Linked DNA regions of Homo sapiens: region 1 is linked to region 2. Evidence: fine-mapped expression QTL. A gene starts in region 2. The other region holds a variant in brackets. All regions are shown on one strand. Distances are between the middles of the regions. Region 1 has its middle 350 kb from the start of MIR504. Region 2 holds the start of FGF13-AS1 (FGF13 antisense RNA 1).

Evidence for each region. PIP is the estimated chance that this variant, and not a neighbour inherited with it, causes the effect. A credible set is the group of variants that fine-mapping cannot tell apart.
Region 1: its variant is the best candidate, but not a certain one, in a credible set for the expression of FGF13-AS1 in sun-exposed skin (GTEx, PIP 0.52).

Annotation. Positions count from the first base shown.
Region 1 is chrX:138,316,561-138,320,949 of GRCh38, reverse strand. No RefSeq gene overlaps it. Among named protein-coding and RNA genes, the nearest start is that of MIR504, 350 kb to the left of the region's middle. The variant C/T (reference allele first, on the strand shown) is at 1,621.
Region 2 is chrX:138,709,715-138,714,103 of GRCh38, reverse strand. FGF13-AS1 (FGF13 antisense RNA 1) reads right to left here and starts at 1,997. Exons shown (of 3, transcript NR_038405.1): 1 at 1,962-1,997. FGF13 (fibroblast growth factor 13) reads left to right here and starts at 2,387. Exons shown (of 5, transcript NM_004114.5): 1 at 2,387-3,287. The coding sequence starts at 3,101.

The sequences.
Region 1 (4,389 bases), 390 kb after region 2:
ACCAAGCCAACCCTATGAGAATTGCTAAAAGAAGCTGTAAACATTGAAACAAATCCTCTAAATACACCAAAATAGAACCTCCTTAAAGGATAATTGTCACAGGACTTACACGACAATAATAGAATGAAAAAAGCACAAGGTATTCAGGCAACAAATAGCATGATGAATAGAATAGCATCTCATATCTCAATACTGACATTGAATGTAAATGGCCTCAACGCTCCACTTAAAAGTTACAGAATGGGCCGGGCGCGGTGGCTCACACCTGTAATTCTGGCACTTTGGGAGGCCGAGGCGGGTGGATCACGAGGTCAGGAGGTCGAGACCATCCTGGCTAATACGGTGAAACCCCGTCTCTACTAAAAATACAAAAAAAAATTAGTGGTAGCGGGCGCCTGTAGTCCCAGCTACTCGGGAGGTTGAGGCAGGAGAATGGCATGAACCCGGGAGGCGGAGCTTGCAGTGAGCCAAGATAGCGCCACTGCAGTCCAGCCTGGGCAAAAGAGCGAGACTCCGTCTCAAAAAAATAAAAAAATAAAAAAATAAAAGTTACAGAATGGCAGAATGGATAAGAATTCACCAAACAAGTTTCTGCTGTCTTCAAGAGATTCACCTAACACATAAAGACTCACATAAACTTAAAGTAAAGGGATGGAAAAAGATATTCCATACAAATGGACACCAAAAGCGAGCAAGAGTAGCTGTTCTTACATCAGACAAAACAAACTTTAAAGCAACAGCAGTTTAAGAAGGCAAAGAAGGACATCATATAATGATAAAAAGACTAGTCCAACAGGAATAGATCACAATTCTAAATATATATGCACCTAACACTGGAGCTCCCAAATTTATAAAATAATTACTACTAGACTTAAGAAATGAGATAGATGGCAACACAATAATAGTGGGGGATTTTAATACTCCACTGACAGCACTAGATAGGTCATCAAGGCAGAAAGTCAACAAAGAAACAATGGACTTAAACTACACCCTACAACAAATGGACTTAACAGATATTTATAGAACATTCTACCCAACAACTGCAGAATATATATTCTAGTCATCAGCACATGGAACATTCTCTAAGATAGACCATATGAGAGGCCACAAAATAAGTCTCAGTAATTTAAGAAAATCGAAATTACATCAAGTACTCTCTAAGACCACAGTGAAATATAATTGGAAATCAACTCCAAAAGGAACCTTCAAAAGCCAGCAAATACATGAAAATTAAATGACCTGCTCCTGAATGACTGTTGGGTCAAAAATGAAATCAAGATGGAAATTTAAAAATTGTTTGAACTAAATGATAATAGTGACACAACCTATTAAAACATCTGGGATACAGCAAAAGCAGTGCTAAGAGGAAAGTTCATAGCACTAAATGACTACATCAAAAAGTTGGAAACAGCACAAATAGACAATCTAAGGTCACACCTCATGGAACTGGAGAAACAAGAAAAATCCAAACCCAAACCCAGCAGAAGAAAAGAAATAACAAAGATCAGAGCAGAACTAAATGAAACAAAATGAAACAAAAAAAAATACAAAAAATAAGTGAAACAAAAAGCTTGTTCTTTGAAAATATAAATAAAATTTGTAGACCATTAGCAGGATTAA[C/T]CAAGAAGAGAGAAGATCCAAATAAGCTCAACTGCAAACAAAATGAGATATATTACAATTGACACCAAATAAATTTTAAAAAAAGATTATTCAAGGCTACTATGAACACCTATATGTGCATAAACTGGAAAACCTAGAGGAGATGGACAAATTCCTGGAAATATACAATCCTCCTAGATTAAACCATGAAGATATAGAATATCTGAACAGACCAATGACAAGCAGTGAGATTGAAATGGTAATAAAAAAAATTCCCAACAAAAAAAAAATCCTGGACCAGACAGATTCACAGCTGAATTCTAACAAACATTCAAAGAAGATTTGGTACCAATCCTATTGACACTATTTCAAAAAATAGGGAAAGAAGGAATCCTCCCTAAATCATTCTATGAAGCCAGTATCACCCTAATACCAAAACCAGAGAAGGACATAACAAAAAAAGAAAACTACAGACTAATATCCCTGATGAACATAGATGTGAAAATCCTCAACAAAATACTAGCAAACCAATTCCAACAGCATATCAAAAAGATAACCCACCATGCTCAAGTGAGTTTCATACCAGGGATGCAGGGATGTTTTAACATATGTAAGTCAATAAATGTGATACAGCGCATTAACAGAATTAAAAACAAAAATCACATGGTCATCTAAATAGATGCAGAAAAAGCATTTGACAAAATCCAGCATCCCCTTTTGATTAAAATCCTCAGCAAAATTGGCATAGAAGGGACATACCTTAAGGTAATTAAAGCCATCTATGACAAACCCACAGCCAACATTATACTGAAGAGGGAAAAGTTGAAAGCATTCCCCCTGAGAACTGGAACAAGACAGGATGCTCACTTTTACCACTTCTATTCAACATAGGGCTGGAAGTCCTAGCCAGAGCAATCAGAGAAGAGAAAGAAATCAAAGGGCATCCAAATCAGTAAAGAGGAAGTCAGACTGTTGCTGTTTGCTGATGACATGATCATATACTTAGAAAACCCTAAAGACTCATCTAAAAATCTCCTAGAACTGGTAAAAGAATTCAGCAAAGTTTCAGGATAGAAAATTAATGTACAGAAATCACTAGCTCTGCAATACACCAACAGTGACCAAGCTGAGAATCAAATCAAGAACTCAAGCCCTTTCACAATAGCTGCAAAAACAAAACAAAACAAAACAAAACAAAAACCCTCAGGAAAATACCTAACCAAGGAGGTGAAAGACTTCTACAAGGAAAACTACAAAACACTGCTGAAAGAAATCATAGATGACACAAACAAGTGGAAGTGCATCCCATGCTCATGGATGGGTAGAATCAATATTGTAAAAATGTCCATACTGCCAAAAGCAATTTACAAATTCAAAGCAATTCCCATCAAAATACCACCATCATTCTCCGCAGAACTAGAAAAAACAATCCTAAAATTCATATGGAACCAAAAAGAGCCCTCATAGCCAAAGCAAGAGTAAGCAAAAAGAACAAACCTGGAGGCATCATATTACTCAACTTCAAATTATATGATTAGGCCATAGTTACCAAAACAGCATGGTACTGGTTTAAAAATAGGCATATGGACCAATGAAACAGAATAGTGAACACAGAAATAAAGCCAAATACTTAACAGCCAACTGATCTTTGATAAAGCAAACAAAAACATAAAGTGGGAAAAGGACAGTCTATTCAACTAATGATGCTGGGATACTTGGCAAGCCACATGTAGAAGAATGAAACTGGATCCTCATCTCTCACCATATCCAAAAATCAACTCAGGATGGATCAAAGACTTAAATCTAAGACCTGAAACCATAAAAATTCTAGAAGATAACATCAGAAAAACCCTTCTAGACATTGGCTTAGGCAAAAACTTCATTACCAAGAACCCAAAAGCAAATGCAACAAAAGCAAAGATAAATAGATGGGACTTAATTAAACTAAAAAAAACTTCTGCACAGTAAAAATAAAAAATAATAATCAGCAGAGTTAACAGACAACCCGCAGAGTAGAAGAAAATCTTCAAAATCTATACATCTGACAGAGGACTAATATCCAGAATCTACAAAGAACTCAAACAAATCAGCAAGAAAAAAAAAACAAAAAGCAAACAATCCAATCGAAAAGTGGGCTAAGGACATGAATAGACAGTTCTCAAAAGAAGATATACAAATGGCCAACAAGCATGTGGAAAAATGCTCAACATCACTAATTATCAGGGAAATTCAAATCAAAACCATAATGTTATATCCCCTTATTCCTGCAAGAATGGCCATCATCAAAAAATTAAAAAATAATAGATGTTGATGTGGATGCAGTGAAAAGTGAGCACTTTTAGACTGTCAGTGGGAATGTAAACTAGTACGACCACTATAGAAAACAGTGTGGAGATTCCTTAAAGCACTAAAGTAGATCTACAATTTGATCCAGCAATCCCACTACTAGGTATCCACTCAGAGGAAAAGAAGTCATTATATGAAAAAGATACTTGCACATGCATGTTCATAGCAGCACAATTTGTAATTGCAAAAATATGGAGCCAACCCAAATGCCCATCAATCAACGAGTGGATAAAAAATATATGGTGTATATATACCCTGAAATACTACTCAGGAATGAAATAATGGCATTCACAGCAACCTGGCTGGAATTGGGGACTATTATTCTAAGTGAAGTAACTCAGAAATGGAAACCAAACATCGTATGTTCTCACTCAAACGTGGGAGCTAAGCTATGAGACACAAAGGCATAAGAATAATACATTGGACTTTTGGGATTTGGGGGAA
Region 2 (4,389 bases):
GGATATAAAAAGACAGAAATATCTTTTGTGGGTTGGCAGGAACATGTGACAGAGGGAGAGTCTCGTTCCCCCTCCCCCATACTCTTCATTTTTCAATATTATACAATTTAATCAGGGAGAGAAGGATTAGAGCAAGAAGGACATCTACAAACACGTGTAGAATCACCTGGTTATCAGCCTTGGCCCAGTGGTTCCATGAGCTTATGTGGATGGTAGACAGGAGTTAGAAACAAAAGGATGTATTTACAGTTTGTGTTTGCAAATTTGTAATAAATGCCCCCGCCATTCTTATTATATATTCCTGAAGTCTTCTCTGAGTCTGTTTACCTCTAATATGTACCACAGAGTGTCCACACCAATAATTCTACAGGCGTCCTGAAAATACCTTATGAATGGTGTTTGCAGAAGCAAACAGTGAGAGCTATCTGAGAGGAGAAGTGGAGGAAAAACGGTGTGGGAAAGCCCTTATGATTTTCTCAATACCATCTCTTCTTCTAAGGTCTATCCCCTTCCTGAATCAGAACTTCATCCTTCTTTAGCTTTTGCATGCCTGCTCTGGGTCAGGATCCCAAGAGAGAAATGAGAGTAGGAACAAAAGGCCCTTGGGGTTGGTGCTTGGCAGAAGGTAAAAACATGCAGAGAATAAGCAGAGACCTTGTACCTGTTCATCACCCACCCCAAATATTTGGGCTTGATCAAAGCTTCTCCTGACCCCTCTTTATGTAAGATATTTCCCTTCATGGTATCTGGAATTTAAACAACAATCACAAACATTTTGAACTAGGAAATAGCCTCCTACTCTTCAGAATCAATATCAATCAGTCATTCCTCAGGGATTTATTTTTCCCTATGAATCAAATTTTAAAGAAGTGGATACTTGAATAGACTTGAGGTGTTAAAACTCTCGTCTACCTTGTCCTCCCTTTTCATTTGGGAAAGCCAAAAGCACAAAAGAGTAGGTAGAAAATGTCAGACCCTTTGGCATCATTCTCCTGTAACTATCAGTCTCAACCCACTGCAACCTTTACCCCAGTCTGCCTTGCAGACACACAGTGGTGCTTCTGATGGAGCAAGAGACATTTCAAGATTGCAGAGAAGTGGAAGGAGGGGTAGCAACAGCTTCCCCTGTGAAGCAATGGAATCTACAGAAGGGTCCGGTGATTCAGCTCTTATGGGCTAAGAAGCCTGAAAGCATTTCAGTGTTGCTGAGTCCGAGCTTGTTTGTTGGGTAGTCAGGCAAGGAAAAAAGGGCTAGAGTCTGAAGATAAGCTGAGCATCTGGTTTTGCATCTACATTAGTTCTGAAAAGAGGTGATGGGGGTGCCATGTAGGAGTCCAGTAAAGACGGTGTAGGGCTGCCAGGTAGTAGAGCTGCTCTATTTTGCTTCCTAGTTGGCCTCAGAAATCAAGTAAAATAGTCAAATAATTGTGTCTGTTTGAAGGTAGGGATGTAGACAGGCCATTTCTCTTTGCTGCATTTCTGGCCTCAAAACCTCTTCTTTCTTTTCCTCCAGAATAAAATATAACACAGGGAGAGGACAGAACTTGTTAATAGACTGAGGCCAGCAAAAAGCCAGACTGGTTCCTGAATTGGAGGGAAGGAGGCTGCCTGACTTTGGAGGAGCAGAAAAAAATAAGTTAGGAGATTAGAGATGGGCCACAGCTTAAATAGAGAGGTTCGACTCTGCATTTCCCAAATACGTAATGCTTACGGTACACGACCCAAGCTCTCTGCTTGAATCCCAAATCTGAGCGGACAGATGAGGGGGCGCAGAGGAAAAACAGGTTTTGGACCCTACAAATTGGCTTGAAATGAAAAGTCAGCAAAAACCACTGGGTGGCAGCGTGGTGTGCGGGCGCAGCTCTGCAGTGTCTGCTTCTGCTGCTACCGCTGGGGCTGAACCCGTCTGGGGACTCTGGCCTCCTCCCCTGAATGGCTACAAGTGTCGCCAAGCAAAATACCTCTGCGCGGGTGGGTGAGGGTTCTCCGGGTTGTTGGTGCGTCCAAGCCTGAGGCAGGGATCTGGCGAACTTCTGAGGGGCTCCAGCCCGAGCACAATCTGGTCAGCTCAAACACTGAGGAAACACCCCCACCACTCCATCCCCCAATGCCGAGCAAACCCCCGCTCCGTCAGCCCAACTACCTCATCTCAGTTCCTCCTCCATCACTGTTTCCTCCCGAAGCTCCTTTCGGGAAAAGGAGGGGAGAAGGATTTGGACGACTGGGGCAGTGCGGAAGCCCCTACAGGTGTTAGCCGGAACGGGCGGCCGGGGACTTGGGGGGGTGGGGGTGGGGGTGGGGGTGGGAGGGGCGGCCTGCGGCTCCGAGCCTACGGGCTCAGCCCCGGGAGGGAGGGGCCGTCGCGGGAGGGGGCTGCAAGGAGGCTGTCGCGCTGTTCCGGAGGGTGCCTGCGGCGGCTGAATTCCTGTGCTGCGACTGTGCCGCGCCCAGAGCAGCAGCAACAGCGAAGATGCGAGGCCATTACCTGTTTGATCCCTGTCGGAAACCTGGCACGGGCCAACTTTTCCCGATTATCACGCCAAGAAGTTGCAAGGACTAGTCGAAGACTCGGAGGGGCCAGGGCGAGGGCGCGCTCCCCCGCGCGCTGCCTCGTCCCTCCTCCGTCCGGCCGCCCGAGCTCCCGGCCTCTCTCCCGCCCGCGCTCACTCCCTCCGCCCGCCTCCCTCCTCTGGCCCCCATCAGAAGGGCAACAGGGCGAGGGGGTCCGGCGAAATTCGGACCGGAGCAGCTGGACATGCACGGTGTCCGCCGGGCGCAGGGGCCGACCACACGCAGTCGCGCAGTTCAGCATCCGCGTGCCAGTCTCGCCCGCGATCCCGGGCCCGGGGCTGTGGCGTCGACTCCGACCCAGGCAGCCAGCAGCCCGCGCGGGAGCCGGACCGCCGCCGGAGGAGCTCGGACGGCATGCTGAGCCCCCTCCTTGGCTGAAGCCCGAGTGCGGAGAAGCCCGGGCAAACGCAGGCTAAGGAGACCAAAGCGGCGAAGTCGCGAGACAGCGGACAAGCAGCGGAGGAGAAGGAGGAGGAGGCGAACCCAGAGAGGGGCAGCAAAAGAAGCGGTGGTGGTGGGCGTCGTGGCCATGGCGGCGGCTATCGCCAGCTCGCTCATCCGTCAGAAGAGGCAAGCCCGCGAGCGCGAGAAATCCAACGCCTGCAAGTGTGTCAGCAGCCCCAGCAAAGGCAAGACCAGCTGCGACAAAAACAAGTTAAATGTCTTTTCCCGGGTCAAACTCTTCGGCTCCAAGAAGAGGCGCAGAAGAAGACCAGGTCGGAAAGGGCTTTTGCTTTCTTTTCCCCATACTTTACGAGTGAGGTGGGGGCGGTGGGGAGCAGGTATGTAGCATAGGTGAGTTTGTTGGTGGCCCATCTTGTGCAGAAGAGGCCACCTAGCCTGTGTGCGTGCGTGGGAAGGCGCTGGCTTTCTTGCCTCCGTAACAGTAACACGCTTGCTGCATTGCAACTGCCCTGGGACAGGCGCAGAGCCTGGGGGCATACTCTGCCCTGGGTGGCTTGCCCTCAGCTTCGGACATGTCACATATGTGCATGCCCGGTGGGCTCTGGGCAGGCGTGACCCAGACATGGCTGTGATATGTATGGCGTGGAAATTGCAGGCGCAGAGCTGGGCAGACACCATCCTCCCGTCCCCAGGAGAGCCTGGGGAATCCCTCTCTTGCTTTTATCTCTGCCTCAGACCCTTCCCCTCCAGCTTCCACCTCCAAGGGATGTGGGCTTCTGCTGTCTAGGCATTGCGTTTCTTTGATGACTTTTAAGCTTTTTGGGACAGACTTGACTTGTGGTGCAGCTTCGAAATGTTTGCTGGGGCGGGGGGAGGGGGGATTTCTAGAACCTTGTTGCAAAGAGCTGAGAGATTTGGTTAGACTTAGTGTAATCGGTTACATGCTACTAAAATGCGGTGTTGAAGAGGGGATTTAAGCTCATACCCAGACTGTGGTGCTTTTGAACATTTTCAGTGGTAGGAGTAGCGCGATATTCCAGCGACTGGAAATTCAGCTCTAGGTGTCAGGTTGCGTCAAGGCAGACCTTCAGGCGAGCATGCAGTTTATTTGCCATTCTTAACCAAATGAATCTTTTACACTCTTTTCTGCCTTTTACTAGATAAATATTACAAAAAAAATAAGAGTCACCGATCTGTTATTTCTCCATTTATGTGTGCTACACCCTGGGATGGAAAAGCAGACATAACGTTTTCTGTTTGCACAAAGTTTTTAATGCATTAACTGTAAATTAGGCTTGTTTCAAAAAGGCTTAAGTGGTTGCAAAGCATGCTTATGTGGCTCGAATAATCACATAAATATTATTTCAGCGCAGGAGTCTATATTCAGTAAAAGAAAATTTTGGATAACATGGC